2 separate regions of the Homo sapiens genome follow, and region 2 is linked to region 1. Evidence: fine-mapped expression QTL. Tissue or cell type: whole blood. Region 1 holds a variant in brackets; the other region holds the start of a gene. All regions are shown on one strand. Distances are between the middles of the regions.

Region 1 (8,092 bases):
AGAACTGTGCTAGCCCCTCCTCTGCAGGACAGGTGGGGCAAGTATATTAGTGGGAGGTGGGGTTGTTGGGACAAATGTTTGCATTTGGGAGGGATTTCTCATGATCATTGACTTTATTTTGATAATCCCCTCAGTTGATCCTTCCTGAGTGCATGAAGCTACTCCCAGTTTACCTGAACTGTGTGTTGAAGAGTGATGTCCTGCAGCCTGGAGCTGAAGTCACTACTGATGACCGTGCCTATGTCCGACAGCTAGTTACCTCCATGGATGTGACTGAGACCAATGTCTTCTTCTACCCTCGGCTCTTACCTTTGGTGCGATTGAGGGTTGGAGTATGAGATCTTGCACGGAGCAAAGGGCCTCTTAGGAGGAGGAAAGGATAGGCTAGTATCAGTCAGACACTAGTGGAATTTGTTTTTATGTATTTTAGCTGATGTAATTTTCACACTGAGAGAGTTACTGAGACCCCAGAAGGGGTGGTGTCTGAGGACTTAGCTTTCAAAATTTTGTGTGTGGTGCGGGGGGGCAGACTTGTCTTATGGTCCTTGGTAACCTTTTGCTCCCTTCCTTTTGTCTAGACAAAGTCTCCCGTTGAGAGTACTACCGAACCACCAGCAGTTCGAGCCTCTGAAGAGCGTCTAAGCAATGGGGATATATATTTACTGGAGAATGGGCTCAACCTCTTCCTCTGGGTGGGAGCAAGCGTCCAACAGGGTGTTGTCCAGAGCCTTTTCAGCGTCTCCTCCTTCAGTCAGATCACCAGTGGTTTGGTGAGGGCAGGGAGTCAAGGAGAATATGGGTGTGGAAGTATACTTTGTGAAACAATTGGGAGCCAATATAGTTAGTGTGCTAGTACCCTCAAATATCAGGGAACACTTGGGGACAAGGGCAGTTGCTGTCATTCTTCCCAGGTTTGCCTGTTTCAGATGATGCATACATGTATGCTGCCCCACCTTGACTGAACTCAGAGTGCCTTACCATAAGGATAAATGAATTTTGTGTTCTAGAGTGTTCTGCCAGTTCTGGATAATCCACTGTCCAAGAAGGTTCGAGGCCTCATTGATAGCTTACGGGCACAGAGATCCCGGTACATGAAGGTAACACTGATCTGAACCCTGGATTTCTTACCTTGTCAAGTCCTCACCTAGAAGTGGGGGTTGGGTGGGGAATGAGTAAGTGACTGCCTAATGAGATTTCTGGGCATGTTTAATTTCCTTTGGCCTTGCCTTATGAACCCTGAATTCTGGCCGTAGCTTACCGTGGTGAAACAGGAAGACAAGATGGAGATGCTGTTCAAGCACTTCCTGGTGGAAGACAAGAGTCTGAGTGGGGGAGCATCTTATGTGGACTTTCTCTGTCATATGCACAAGGAGATTCGGCAGCTACTGAGCTAAAGCAAGTGGGTAAATGGCATAGGGCCCAGGCTAGCTTCCAGAAAGCACCCCAGGATGTCAGAGAAATTGGGACAGTAACATATCTTATGTAAGCTGACCTCAGTCTCTCTGGGGGGAGGGGGAGATATAAGGAGACACCTTCTTTCTGGGCTCAAGTATCCTGCCACTCTGTCATGTCCTGCTGATGGAAGGTGCCCCTGTTCCCTCATTCTACCCTCTTTTTCCTGCTAATCCTGTCATAATGAATGTAGCTTCTCAGTTCACTGTATATGATTCGGTATTGGGGGTTTGGAGGCACCCAGACCCTGGCAATATTATGTGTCCCTTTGGACCAGTCTCCCAAGAGGAGAGGGGCAGGCAGGAAAGAGTGGGGATCCTAAGGTTACTACAGGGGGCTCAGTGTCATCCACAACTTCCTATATTAGGGATAAAACATATAGGTGCACAAGAGCTGGGGTATAGCCCATAGGTGGTGGAGAGAAAAGTGGTCAGTCCTTCTTGGGCCTGGAGGTTAGCAGTCAAGTTTCTCTGCTTTCACTGCTCGCTCGCTCTCTCCTGCAATGATTGATGATCACTCCGTGGATAGAGAGGCACACTGTCAGAGGTGACCGGAGAACTGAGTTGCAAAATATATTAAGATCTGGTAGAGGTACCAGCTTCCTTTCCAGCTGGAGAGGCCCCAACACTGGATGGTTCTGTAGGGAGCCTAGGGAGCCTGGTCATCAACTTGCAATACCTCACAGAGCCAGTTCACATCCCACTCTGAGCTCCCACGAGAAACACTGCTTCTCCAGGCCCGGGGTTGTTGGGGAGAGAGGCAGAGGCAGCTGGAGCGCCGTTCTCTCCTGCTGGGACACCGCTTGGGCTTTGGTATTGACTGAGTGGCTGACAGTTATCTTCCAACCCCAACTGGCTTGGGGGCAGGACAAGGGCTAGGCTTGATGGTGGCCAGGCTTGCCTGCTCCCCACCTGGGATGCCCCTGCTCTGGACCTCTCATTTCTCTTCATTGGTTTATTTTTCAATGCATCTTTAATTTGTAAAGAAATAAAATAAATTAAGATGTAACCATTAGCCTCATCTTTACTCCCGAAAGCTCACTTTGCTTTTAGTCCTGGCCGTCGGCTGAGCGAGCTGCGCATGCGCCACGTGCCCCCGTGGCGTAGGGCCTCGTCCGGTCACGACTATCCGCTGGGCGGGGTCGGTGCTGGCCGAGGGGGCGCCGGCTGCCGGAGTGGACATGGCGGCCGGCCCCATTAGGGTGGTGTTGGTCCTTCTAGGGGTGCTCAGTGTCTGTGCAGCCAGCGGCCATGGGTCCGTAGCGGAGAGGGAGGCCGGCGGGGAGGCGGAGTGGGCGGAACCGTGGGATGGCGCGGTTTTCCGGCCGCCCTCGGCGCTGGGCGCAGTGGGGGTGACGCGCAGCTCTGGGACGCCGCGGCCAGGGAGGGAGGAGGCGGGGGACTTGCCGGTACTGCTGTGGTGGAGCCCAGGGCTATTCCCCCACTTCCCGGGAGACTCGGAGCGCATCGAGTGTGCGCGCGGCGCGTGCGTGGCGTCCCGGAACCGCCGAGCGCTGAGGGACTCGCGGACGCGCGCGCTGCTCTTCTACGGCACAGACTTCCGCGCGTCGGCCGCCCCGCTGCCGCGCCTGGCGCACCAGAGCTGGGCGCTCCTCCACGAGGAGTCGCCCCTCAACAACTTCTTGCTGAGCCACGGCCCGGGCATCCGCCTCTTCAATCTTACCTCCACCTTCAGTCGCCACTCGGATTACCCGCTGTCGCTGCAGTGGCTGCCCGGGACCGCCTATCTGCGCCGCCCGGTGCCTCCGCCCATGGAACGCGCGGAGTGGCGCCGCCGCGGCTACGCGCCGCTGCTCTATCTGCAGTCACACTGCGACGTGCCAGCGGACCGGGACCGCTACGTGCGCGAGCTCATGCGCCACATCCCGGTGAGTGAGGGCGGGCCGGAGGGAAGGAAAAGGAGAGGGCGGGTTGAGGCCAGGACTCCAGGTGTCCAGGACTCCAGGTGTCCAGGACTCCAGGTGTCCAGGCCTCCAGGGCCGCACCCTCATGACAGCCTTACTGTACCCGGTCTAGGTAGACTCCTACGGGAAATGCCTGCAGAATCGGGAGCTGCCTACCGCGCGGCTACAGGACACAGCCACGGCCACCACCGAGGATCCAGAGCTCTTGGCTTTCTTGTCCCGCTATAAGTTCCACTTGGCCCTGGAAAATGCCATCTGTAACGACTACATGACAGAAAAACTGTGGCGTCCCATGCACCTGGGCGCTGTGCCCGTGTACCGCGGTTCTCCCTCTGTGAGGGACTGGATGCCGAACAATCACTCCGTCATCCTGATTGATGATTTTGAGTCTCCTCAGAAGCTGGCAGAGTTTATTGACTTTCTGGACAAGAATGATGAGGAGTATATGAAATACCTGGCATACAAGCAACCTGGGGGCATCACCAACCAATTTCTTCTGGATAGTCTGAAGCATCGGGAGTGGGGAGTGAATGATCCTTTGCTGCCTAACTACCTCAACGGCTTCGAGTGTTTCGTCTGTGACTACGAACTGGCTCGGCTGGATGCCGAGAA[A/G]GCCCACGCGGCCTCTCCCGGGGACAGCCCCGTCTTTGAGCCCCACATTGCCCAGCCCTCACACATGGACTGCCCAGTGCCCACACCTGGCTTTGGCAATGTGGAAGAGATTCCTGAGAATGACAGGTAAGAGTGCTGGGGTCCCCTGCAGCTATCAAATCATTTACTTACTTGCTTACTGTGGGCAATTAAGTAGCACTAGGTGCTGAGCAGGTGCAGGAGGAAATTATCACATGGGCTCATTCTGTATTTAAGGTGTCAACAGTCTAGTTGGGGGGATAAGACAAGCTGAAAAAGCTGAATAGATGTAAAATATAATTCAAGGCAACGTATGAAAATCAGCTTATGTGAACAATGTTTCCAGTAGTGGTTCAAAAAGATTGAACCAGAGTACAGGGCCTGTGCAGACAGGGGAGAGAGAAAATGGGGCAAATAAATAGGGACAAGGCTATAAATATCATTAATACCAGGTTCAGGAGTTTGCACTGCACTAAAAATCAACTCAGCTATTTGAGCACCTTTTATAGAGTGGAAATGGGGTTGGGCAGTAGAGAAGAGCACTTTTAGAGAGGCTTTTCTGCAGTAGTCAGGGGTTACACCTGTTAACCAGCCATAATTTTTTTTTTTAAGCGGCTGTGCTGAGGATGAGCCCCATGTAGTTGGTGCAGGTGGGGACACACTGCCTGTGTAACTAGAAAAACTAGGCATGGCCGGGCACGGTGGCTCACACCTGTAATCCCAGCACTTTGGGAGGTCAAGGGGGGAGGAACACTTGAGGCCAGAGACAATATAATATATAATATAATATATTGACCAGCCTGGACAATATAATAAGAGCCTCTCTGTACAATTTAAAAACTAAAAGCCTGGGGTGGTGGCACATACCTGTAGTCCTGGCTACTTGGGAGGCTGTGGCAGGTGGATTGCTTGAACCTAGGAGTTCAATGCTGTAGTGAGCTAGGATCGTGCCACTGCATTCCAGCCTGGGTTGGAGTAAGACCCTGTCACACACACACACACACACAAAACAATGCACAATGCGCATCAGAAGGGAAGCGAATAGGCTACTGTAGTAGGTGGCAAAAGGTGGTGGTACTGGGAAACAAGGCCAGCGTGTGGTGTGGGGTGGGAAAATGTTGAAACCACTTGTAGCAAGCCACACCTATTGGGGGAGAGGTGATAAGATTATTAAGCTGAAGTAAGGCTGCTAGAATGGCCTATAGAAACCGACTTGGACAGTGGATGGCAGCAGAAGGCCATTTATTAACAGATGCTGCTGGCAGTTTTGTCCTGATGGTTGGAATCCTTCACCAAGTAATTTGTATCTAATTACAAATTGTTTGTATCTGAACATAATATGATTTACTAGAGGAAAAGTATGAAAAAATATGAAACATTAAGAAAATAAATATTCAGGTTATGTCTTTTCTAGATACTGGATGCTACTTCATTTTGATGCACCTTCATTTTGATTATTGGCATAAAGGTGAAACTTAAAAGATAATCATCTAAAGACCCCTGCCCCCTTGCTTTCCTTATGGAGACTGCCACTTCCAGTCTGGCCTCTGCTTTGCCTGCCTCTGAACCCCCTCCACATTTGGGAGCCAGAAGCAGGCAAGTCAGGAATCGTAATTGATTGGGTAGTCTGTGTGATGTCTTTGTGTTTGTGACTTACTGCCTGTCGCTTGGGCTTATATTGGATTTACTTCACTTTGTCTTCCTTTCACAGCAGTCTTGTCCAAGTTAGAGACCACTGTATCTGCTTAAGATTTCTTTGGCCCCACTCGGAAAAAGGCAGGACTCATAACTATGCTGCAGTTCCATAATCCAACCCCCATTTTGATATTTCAGTTGGAAAGAGATGTGGCTGCAAGATTATTGGCAAGGTCTGGACCAGGGGGAAGCTCTCACTGCCATGATCCACAACAATGAAACAGAGCAGACGAAATTTTGGGATTACCTACATGAAATCTTCATGAAGAGGCAACATCTCTAAGTGCCCTTGCAAGAGCCTTTAACTTGGCGGAGCTAAGGAGATCTTATTCTACCATGGGACATAAGGAGCATCCACTGCACAAACCCTTAATGAACACTGTCTTTTCATGGATTCAAGGAATTCCAGTTTTATCTATTAAGATTTTATCTTAATGATGAGTAGCCAAGGTCTAACATAGGGCCTCTCCTCAAGGAGAGATGGAGGGATACAATTCTTGGTTCAGTGGGAAACAGAACCCTAAAACATCCATTTGATTCAAGGTGCTGGTCCAACAGAGTTTTTAAACTACTCACTTCTTTATTTCATCCTTTCGACTGTACTTGATTACCAGTGAAGTAAGATGGGTCAGGTTACGACTTACAACTTTTGTTCTATTCCCCAGACTCCTCATTATTCAGTACATTTCCCAATAATCTCTTTTTCTCATCTCTTGCTTTATAAATTGTTACGTTGGTGGAGAAGCAAAACATTTGGTGAGTTGTATTCTGGTTTTCCGGAGTTGGATTTTTTTATATTATATACTTTCATGTCAAACTTCTATTTTACTTATTTATTTATTTTTTTAAAATATTTTTTGTAGAGATGAGGTTTTGCCACATTGCCCAGGTTGGTCTCCAACTCCTGGATCAAGCAATCCATCCGCCTTGACCTCCCAGAGTGCTGGGTTTACAGGCATCAGCCACCTCACCCAGCCCTAATTTTTTTTTTTTTTTTGGCTTTTTCTGGCCAGGCGTAGTGGCTTATGCCTGTAATCCCAACACTTTGGGAGGCCGAGGAGAGGCGACTGCTTGAAGCCAGGAGTTTGAGACCATCCTAGCAAGACCTTGTCTCTAAAAAATAAAAGAATTAGCAGGGCATGGTGGTGCACACCTGTAGCCCTAGATACTTGGGAGGTTGAGGCAGGAGGATCACTTGAGTCCAGGAATTTAAGGCTGCAATGAGCTATGATCATGATCACTGCACTCCAGCCTGGGTGACAGAGCGAGACACCGTCTCAAATTATATATATATATTAAGATGGAGTCTTGCTTTGTCACCAGCTGGAGTGCAGTGGCATGATCTCGGGTCACTGCAACCTCCACCTCCCTGGTTCAAGCGATTCTCCTGCCTCAGCCTCCTGAGTAGCTGGGACTACAGGCATGCACCACCACGCCCAGCTAATTTTTTGTATTTCTAGTAGAGACAGGGTTTCGCCATGTTGGCAAGGATAGTCTCGATTTCTTGACTTCGTGATCCGCCCGCCTTGGCCTCCCAAAGTGCTGGGATTACAGGTGTCAGCCACCGCACCCGGCCTCAAATACATTTTTTTAATGGCCTTGTCTTTCCTGGTTTTAGGCCCTTTTCCACAATTTCTGATGGAAATACAGAAACCTTGCCATCATTCTTACTGCTGGTTTGCATCTCATTTATGGTGTATCTGGGATTTCTTCTCATGAACAGAAAGATTCAGTGGCTGTTATATGCCTTGTCAATTTAATGTATTGCCCTATCCTCTTTTTGATCAAAGATAGAGACTAAGACTGGGAATTATGACAGAAAAAGTCATATTTTTCTTTAAATGATTTTGAAATGTTAAAATAGGCCAATATGAGTCAAAGTGCAAATTTTTTGGTGAGTAGGTTGACAAAAAAAAAAAAAAATCCAGGAAAAAAAGTGCAAATTTTTATAGGTCCTAATTCTTTTGTTTGCCTAATGAAGTGTTCCCTCTATTTTATTGTTTTTATATGCTACAAAGTCCCATCTTCTGCAGTTATGGAAACAGTGTGGCTGTATGTTTTAGTAATTATTTCATAATCTGTAGCACTTTTCACTTTAAGTGCAATGAATAGTCCAGCTTCATTCACTGTATTACTAATACGCTTCCCTATGACTTTTTTTTTTTTTTTGAGATGGAGTTTCGCTCTTGTTGCCCAGGCTGGAGTGCAGTGGCGCGATCTCAGCTTACTAGAATCTCTGCATTCCCAGTTCAAGTGATTCTCCTGCCTCAGCCTCCCTAGTAGTGGGGATTACAGGCGCCCGTCACCACATCTAGCTAATTTTTGTATTTTTAGTAGAGATGGGGTTTCACCATGTTGGCCAGTCTGGTGTCGAACTCCTGAGCTCAGGTG
Region 2 (8,094 bases), 29 kb after region 1:
CACCTGACACCCCCTGAGGTTGCATCCCTGGCTGACAGGGCATCACGGGCAAGAGACTCCAATATGGTGAGGGCGGCAGCAGAGCTGGCCCTGAGCTGCCTGCCTCACGCCCATGCATTGAACCCTAATGAGATCCAGCGGGCCCTGGTGCAGTGCAAGGAACAGGTATTTCTACGGGCAATCTGGGAACCTCTTCTGGGGCATCTGGGCAGGGAGGTTGGGCATGGGAAAGCTAAGGGCCCAGCTCTTGATTCCCGTATCCTGGAGTTTACAGATGATTGTTGGTCCTCTCATGGCAACATTTTACCCATTAATGTGCTTTCACACCCATCTTTCCTTTACCTTACAACTCAAAGGTTAGGTTTATTTCTATTTTACAGATAAGGAAATGGAGGCCTACGGTTTAGGGACCAAGATGATCACTCAGGATAGAAAACTTAGGGAAGGCCTCATACATCTAAGACTTGAATGGGAGGGGGCTGTTAAATTAGTTTGGAACTGGGACTATAACCTGGGTCTTGACTCATTTTGGTCAGTATTTACTCAGTGTGTGAAGCACTCACTGCTCTGATAATGGACTCTAAGCATTGACACTGACCTCTGATGATTCCCTGGGAATGAGACAGCTCTGAGGGAGACATTGGAATCTCATCTAACACCTTCCATGTGGTAAAGGCCTTTCCCCCTTAACACTCTGTGCCCCTCTCTTCCAGGACAACCTGATGTTGGAGAAGGCCTGCATGGCAGTGGAAGAGGCAGCTAAGGGTGGGGGCGTGTACCCTGAAGTGTTGTTTGAGGTTGCTCACCAGTGGTTCTGGCTGTATGAGCAAACTGCAGGTGGCTCATCCACAGCCCGTGAAGGGGCTACAAGCTGTAGTGCCAGTGGGATCAGGGCAGGTGGGGAAGCTGGGCGGGGTATGCCTGAGGGTAGAGGGGGCCCAGGGACTGAGCCGGTTACAGTGGCAGCGGCAGCAGTGACAGCAGCAGCCACAGTGGTGCCCGTCATATCGGTGGGGTCTAGTTTATACCCGGGTCCAGGACTGGGGCATGGCCACTCCCCTGGCCTGCACCCCTACACTGCTCTACAGCCCCACCTGCCCTGTAGCCCTCAGTATCTCACTCACCCAGCTCACCCTGCCCACCCCATGCCTCACATGCCCCGGCCTGCCGTCTTCCCTGTGCCCAGCTCTGCATACCCACAGGTGAGACCAGTGTTCTGCTGGGGGGTAAGGCATGGGAAAATACTGGGAATTCATAGGGGGTTGGAGTGGGTACTCTGGGAGTATAATTGGTCAGTCGGAGAGTCCTGGTGAGGTGGTGGGAGTCTGGGGGACCCAGCCCAACTAAAATAAGAAATGACGGCCGGGCATGGTGGCTCATGCCTGTAATCCCAGCACTTTGAGAGGCCGATGTGGGTGGATCACTTGAGGTCAGGAGTTCGAGACCAGCCTGGCCAACATGGGGAAACCCCGTCTCTACTAAAAATTAGCTGAGTGCACGCCTGTAATCCCAGCTTCTTGGGAGGCTGAGATGGGAATCACTTGAACCTGGGAGGCAGAGGTTGCAGTGAGCCGATATCGTGCCACTGCACTCCAGCCTGGAGGACAGAGCGAGACTCTATCTCAAAAAAAACATGTCAGGATAGCAGCTTGTGGGGGTGAAGCACGACAGCAACATCCTAATCAAGTTTGGCATCTTCCCCTTTCTTCTCCCTGCCCCTAGGGTGTGCATCCTGCATTCCTAGGGGCTCAGTACCCTTATTCAGTGACTCCTCCCTCACTTGCTGCCACTGCTGTGTCTTTCCCCGTTCCTTCCATGGCACCCATCACAGTACATCCCTACCACACAGAGCCAGGGCTTCCACTGCCCACCAGTGTGGCCTGTGAGTTGTGGGGCCAGGGAACAGGTGAATGGAGGGGAGGCACACTGGGCAGGGGAGGTGGGGAGGGAATGTTCTTTGTCTCTCTTTGGGCTCTGAGTTCCTCACATGGCTCTCACCCCACTTAGTGAGCAGTGTCCATCCAGCATCCACGTTTCCAGCCATCCAAGGTGCCTCACTGCCTGCCCTGACCACACAGCCCAGCCCTCTGGTGAGCGGAGGTTTTCCACCGCCCGAGGAGGAGACACACAGTCAGCCAGTCAATCCCCACAGCCTGCACCACCTGCATGCTGCCTACCGTGTCGGTGAGAGGACATCCCTTTCTGTGCTCCTACCTGCAGTTGTGCCAGTGGCTCTTCAGAGGACCCTTCCTCTAGCTCTTCATTTGTTTACTGTGGGGTCAGGTGACAGGTTGGGGTAAAGGGTGAAGAGGATACACCGTACCATGTGCCCACCCTTATCTATCTCCCAGGAATGCTGGCACTGGAGATGCTGGGTCGCCGGGCACACAACGATCACCCCAACAACTTCTCCCGCTCCCCCCCCTACACTGATGATGTCAAATGGTTGCTGGGGCTGGCAGCAAAGCTGGGTAACACCTCCCCTCCCTAGGACCATTGCCCCCCCCCCACCTGCTCTCCCCACCTTCCTTATCCCAGACCTCCTTCCTAGCTCTTGCTCAGAGTTGAGGCCTTGGTCGGGTATGTGTGCGTGCGCGGGGGGCGGAGGGTTACCTCAGCTCCTGGGGTGGAGGGAGGCTCTCTGCCAGGCCAGAGCTGAGATCTGTAAGTTGGGTCCCTAGGGCAGAGGTGGCCACCCCCGTCTCATGCCCCTCCCCCTGCCCCCCAGGAGTGAACTACGTGCACCAGTTCTGTGTGGGGGCAGCCAAGGGGGTGCTGAGCCCGTTTGTGCTGCAGGAGATCGTCATGGAGACGCTGCAGCGGCTGAGTCCCGCTCATGCCCACAACCACCTGCGTGCCCCGGCCTTCCACCAACTGGTGCAGCGCTGCCAGCAGGCATACATGCAGGTGACAACCTAGAATTATGGAGCAGGGTGGAGCACTTCCTGGGTGGTCTTGGACCAGAGGGAGGCAGGGCCTGTTTCTGTGCTTTGTACTAAGGCTCATCCTGCACACATCCTCCTCCAGTACATCCACCACCGCTTGATTCACCTGACTCCTGCGGACTACGACGACTTTGTGAATGCGATCCGGAGTGCCCGCAGCGCCTTCTGCCTGACGCCCATGGGCATGATGCAGTTCAACGACATCCTACAGAACCTCAAGCGCAGCAAACAGACCAAGGAGCTGTGGCAGCGGGTCTCACTCGAGATGGCCACCTTCTCCCCCTGAGTCTTTCACCCTTAGGGTCCTATACAGGGACCCAGGCCTGTGGCTATGGGGGCCCCTCACACAGGGGGAGTGAAACTTGGCTGGACAGATCATCCTCACTCAGTTCCCTGGTAGCACAGACTGACAGCTGCTCTTGGGCTATAGCTTGGGGCCAAGATGTCTCACACCCTAGAAGCCTAGGGCTGGGGGAGACAGCCCTGTCTGGGAGGGGGCGTTGGGTGGCCTCTGGTATTTATTTGGCATTTATAAATATATAAACTCCTTTTTTACTCTAGTCGACCTGGGCCTTTCCCTTCTTTCCAAATTCCATGTGCAGATGAACCTTCAACTGGGGAGGAAACTTCTGACACTTGCTTTAGTCTAGGTTTTTCCCACTCCAGGGAGGCAGACAAAACAGAAAAATAAGGATGTTTATTAAGGACATTTCTAGCCCACAGCTAGGGCTCATACTCGGCTCTATGAGCCACTGTCCGACCTCATCCCCATTCAATGTGAATGACATTAGGGAGGCCGGGCCACAGGTAGATCCCACTGCCTGGCTAAAGGGGCCATAGCAAGGGGTCCCTCCCATGCAAGGGGTCTCTCCCATAGCCAGGTATAGAATAGATACACTGCTGCGGATGAAGAGGGAAATCTCATTGGACTAATACATTCCCCTACACCCTGCCTGGACCCTCTCATTCCTCCCCACCTCCCAAGATGATGGGTCAAAGGTACCTAGCACTATTATGTGGGGTACCAAAGGAAGCCCCTTTATTTGTCCCAGAACTGTGGGAAAAGGATACCCTTCCCTTCTCAGCCATCTCAGGCCTGGGGGCTACTGAGGTAGAGGGGGAGGGGCCAGGCCACTCTAATCCCCCTTGTGGGCCCTGCTCTGGACCTGCCCCTTAGGGAAGCAGGGGGCATTTTGCTGGTATGGGAGGCTGGGACATCAGCCCAGACTGGAATGCTGCAGTTCTTCCCGAAGCCACGAGGGCACTGGCTGTCCAAGCCGGCTCAGCAGCTTCGACAACTCCAAATTATGGTTCCGGAAAAAATCCGTAAGGAAAAGACGGGACTGACAGGAGAAAATGAAGGCAGAAATGGTAAGAAGTGGGACACAGAATCAGATCCTGGAAGTGGAGAGGGATTCCCCTGCCCCTGGCTTTACTTACCTCAGTGTCCATATCTGGATACCTCCGGCCTTTGCTCCGGCCTAGACAGCGAGTCTTACCACCTTCAAGTCCCTGGCACCAAAATCCCTTATCATCATCAAACCTGCTCAACAGGAAGAGGCCATGAGGTGGCAGGGAAAAGAGAAACTCAAGTTCCATAAATGCACAATGCCCTTCCCTGCCCACAGGGACATGTCTCTCCTTGTGAGACAGAGTAAATCTATGTCTCTAACAGACATGGTCAACCTGCTTCCCCATTTCCCATACAGTACTCCTCCCCTGGGTCATGCTCTCCCACCTGAGGGTCCGTGTGTAGTTCAGAAAGGGTGTGATACCCAGGAACTTCTGGATGCTCTCCATTGAGGCTGCTGGGTTGGTACGCAGCTCTTGCCCATCCACAATCAGCAACTAAAAGGACAGGGATGTGGTTCCCTCTATATTCCTAAGAAGCCTCTGGGCTGAAGGGAAGAAGAGGGGAAGGGGAACCCCACTGAGGGCTCTTGTGGGGATTATACCTGTCCAGAGGGGTAGTAAGTCAGCCAGCGTTGTAGATGGGTAGAATAGTAGCCAGGGACAAGACAGCGGTTCTGCAGGGAGCGTAGTGCCAGAGGGGTCTGGGAGGAGGCTGAAATCACCTGATAGAAGGTATAGTTCAGAGCAACTGGGTCTCCATGGGCTCGCTGATGCTGAAGGACAAAGAGAAGGAAGGTGAAGGACTGGTGATTTGACAGTATTCTGCCCTTACGCTTGGTCTGGAGACAGACAGCACAGCACGGGTACCCGTCCCCAAGGCACTAGTTAAGTTTCTCAAACCTCACTCCTTTCTCCCTCTCTAGCAGTCACTGTCCCCTCCCCCCTCCCCCCAACCTTTAGCCTGTGTGTCCCTAGCTTCAGGCAGACCTGGTACCAGGAGTAGGCCCTGTCAGCAGGGTTGGTGAGCACTGTGATGATCTTGGCTCGTGGCAGGAGGGCAGCCCCCCGCCGTGGTACAACTTCAGAGTCAAAGTAGGTGGCACTTTTTTCAAATAGGAAATCAGTGCTGGCATTGGAAGGAACAGGGAAGAAATCCATGTACCTAGGAAGTAGCACAGAAGAGAGAGAAGCAGAAAAATATGCAGAGTGAAGTGGCCAGAAGTCTGTGCTGAGGGAAGCTGGAATGGGGTATTTTGGGGGAAGGGAGTGTTCCTCTGAGAAACATTCAAATGGGGCCCAGTCTCACCAGTCAATACCCTTGTGGTAATTAGGGCTGTTGAAGAACTGAATCTCCTCAAATGTGCTGGGGCTAGGGAAGCTGCTAGTTACAGCTGGGTGCAGGCTCAGGAAGAAGTGAATAGCTGTAGTCCCTAAATGGGAGAGAAAGACCAGCTTCAGGCAGCCATTGTGGGAGGGAAGCCAGCTCAACAGCATAAGCTTGAAGGAAGTGAAAAAATAACCACTCTGGGTAGGAAAATCCCCTATGGCCAAACTACAATGATAGGAGGCAAGTCTGAGAGAGGCCCAGGGAAGGGCTAAAACAGTGGTTCTCTGCTTTAACTGTGCACCAGAATGACTTGTGATCTTGTAAAAACACCACAGATGATTCTGATATACAACCAGGGTTAGGAATCACTGCCTCAAGAGACTGGATCAATGAGGGGTGGGTATAAAAGGAGTTCCTTTTTTTCTCTCTTAAAAATTCAAATTAAGGCCGGGTGCGGTGGCTCATGCCTGTAATCCCAGCACTTTGGGAGGCCAAGGCAGGCGGATCACTTGAGGTCAAGAGTTCGAGACCAGCCTGGCCAACATGGTGAAACCCCGTCTCTACTAAAAATACAAAAATTAGCCAGGTGTGGTGGCACCTGCCTGTAATCCCAGCTACTAGGGAAGCTGAGCAGAATTGCCTGAACCTGGGAGGTGGAGGTTGTAGTGAGCTGAGATCGTGCCACTGCGCTCCAGCCTGGGCAAAGAAGTGAGACTCTTATCTCAAAAAAAAAAAAATTATTAAAATTAAAAATACTTTTTTCACTCCTGTGATTACCTGGAGAGAGAAGAGAGTTCCTTGACAAAAGGATCCTTTGGGTTTAAGGCAGGGCAAGAGAAGTTAGCTAAGGATACTTCACCTGTTTTCTGGGGTCCCACAATGAGGAACTTCGGGAGACGATCACAGGTTTTCTCCTTGGACCAGATATCTTTGTGCCTCTTGTCATCACAGGGATTCTGAAGCCAGGGCCAATAATCAGATAAGGCCTATTTTTTTTTTTTTTTTGAGACGGAGTTTCGTTCTTGTTGCCCAGGCTGGAGTGCAATGCATGATCTCGGCTCACTGCAACCTCCGCCTCCTGGGTTCAAGCAATTCTCTTGCCTCAGCCTTCTGAGTAGCTGGGATTATAGGCAATGTGCCACCATGTCCGGCTAATTTTGTGTTTTTAGTAGAGACAGGGTTTCTCCAAGTTGGTCAGGTTAGTCTCAGACTCCTGACCTCAGGTGATCTGCCTGCCTCGGCCTCCCAAAGTGCTGGGATTACAGGCATGAGCCACCGTGCCCGGCCTGGCCTAGTCTTCTCTTAAACCCCCACCCCGGCTGGGCGCAGTGGCTTACATATGTAATCCCAGCACTTTGGGAGGCTGAGGCGGGCGGATCACCTGCAGTCAGGAGTTCGAGACCAGCCTGACCAACATGGTGAAACCCCGTCTCTACTAAAAATACAAAAAATTAGCCGGGCGTGGTGGCGGGTGCGTGTAATCCCAGCTACTAGGGAGGCTGAGGCAGGAGAATCGCTTGAACCTGGGAGGTGGAGGTTGCAATGAGCAGAGATTGTGCCATTGTACTCTAGCCTGGGTGACAGAGCGAGATTCTGTCTCAAAACAACAACAACAACAACAAAAAACACCCCACCCCTATCATGTCTCTCATCAGACTGAGCTCCACCTTTACCTGCCAAAGGGGGCTTCGCTCCTGAGGGAAAAGTTCAAAGTACTTCTGTGCAAGTGGGACAGGAGGAAGGGTCTGTAGGCGCAGCCGTGTCCAACACTGGAGGAAGCGCACCAAGCTCTCAAAGGTGTATAGGCCCAGCCGGTCATTTCCATAATTGGACAGATGGGTCATAAAGATGCTGATCTGTAAGGGGTACCTGCATGTCAGATTTGGAGAGCCTACCCCACCTCTGAATTAGCCTTGGTGAATAAAGGTCCCAGCCTGCAAACACCTTGGCTCTCCAATCTTCTAGCCGTTCCTCTCAGCACCTTACCGGATTAAGCAGCACTGTCAGAAAGAGCTCTCCACCTCGGATGCTCCGGTCTAGTTCACGAGAGCCTCCAGGATACTCATTATAGAAGATTGTGTGAGTGAAGAGGCCACATGTCTGCCGGGGCAGCACCTGGAGGGAAAAGAAAAAACAGATGAGATTTGAAAGATAGAATGAGAAGTAGATGGAGGACACTGGGATTTATAGAGGACTGAGTCTGAAGTTATAGCAATAAAGCTCTTACTGAGGGTGTTAAAATTTTTTCACCTTTCTACCCCCAATTATGTACCCCCATACTTGGACTGGCAGTTGATAGAGAACATAGGTCAATGCATGTTGAAAGCTGTCTAAATGTTAGAGTTTGATTCAAGCCTGTATTGGGAGTCCCTCACCATAATGCCATTGTGAATGAAGCCACGGCGGTAGCGGGCAGGGCGGAGATGGGGATACTCCTCAGTGCTGGTCACCTGGATGCCCCACACGGAT

What was found. PIP is the estimated chance that this variant, and not a neighbour inherited with it, causes the effect.
Region 2: ZSWIM8-AS1 starts here. The variant in region 1 is fine-mapped to the expression of ZSWIM8-AS1 in whole blood (TOPMed, PIP above 0.99).

What each region holds. Positions count from the first base shown.
Region 1 is chr10:73,769,702-73,777,793 of GRCh38, forward strand. SEC24C (SEC24 homolog C, COPII component) reads left to right here. Exons shown (of 23, transcript NM_198597.3): 19 at 1-32; 20 at 135-314; 21 at 579-770; 22 at 1,008-1,097; 23 at 1,254-2,460. The coding sequence ends at 1,394. It overlaps POFUT4 (protein O-fucosyltransferase 4), which reads left to right and starts at 2,575. Exons shown (of 3, transcript NM_173540.3): 1 at 2,575-3,340; 2 at 3,489-4,114; 3 at 5,840-6,518. The coding sequence starts at 2,633. The coding sequence ends at 5,984. RefSeq lists enhancers at 2,297-2,476, 3,067-3,176, 3,462-3,992, 3,837-3,886 and a silencer at 2,807-2,856. The variant A/G (reference allele first, on the strand shown) is at 3,989.
Region 2 is chr10:73,798,289-73,806,382 of GRCh38, forward strand. ZSWIM8-AS1 (ZSWIM8 antisense RNA 1) reads right to left here and starts at 3,111. Exons shown (of 4, transcript NR_038357.1): 1 at 3,052-3,111; 2 at 2,215-2,271. ZSWIM8 (zinc finger SWIM-type containing 8) reads left to right here. Exons shown (of 26, transcript NM_001367799.1): 20 at 1-165; 21 at 714-1,202; 22 at 1,723-1,882; 23 at 2,008-2,184; 24 at 2,352-2,471; 25 at 2,729-2,907; 26 at 3,028-3,505. The coding sequence ends at 3,231. NDST2 (N-deacetylase and N-sulfotransferase 2) reads right to left here. Exons shown (of 15, transcript NM_003635.4): 6 at 8,001-8,094; 7 at 7,612-7,740; 8 at 7,299-7,481; 9 at 6,485-6,581; 10 at 5,605-5,728; 11 at 5,286-5,460; 12 at 4,901-5,071; 13 at 4,684-4,793; 14 at 4,386-4,488; 15 at 3,628-4,288. The coding sequence ends at 4,163. It overlaps NDST2-ZSWIM8-AS1 (NDST2-ZSWIM8-AS1 readthrough), which reads right to left. Exons shown (of 18, transcript NR_182658.1): 6 at 8,001-8,094; 7 at 7,612-7,740; 8 at 7,299-7,481; 9 at 6,485-6,581; 10 at 5,605-5,728; 11 at 5,286-5,460; 12 at 4,901-5,071; 13 at 4,684-4,793; 14 at 4,386-4,488; 15 at 3,052-4,288; 16 at 2,215-2,271.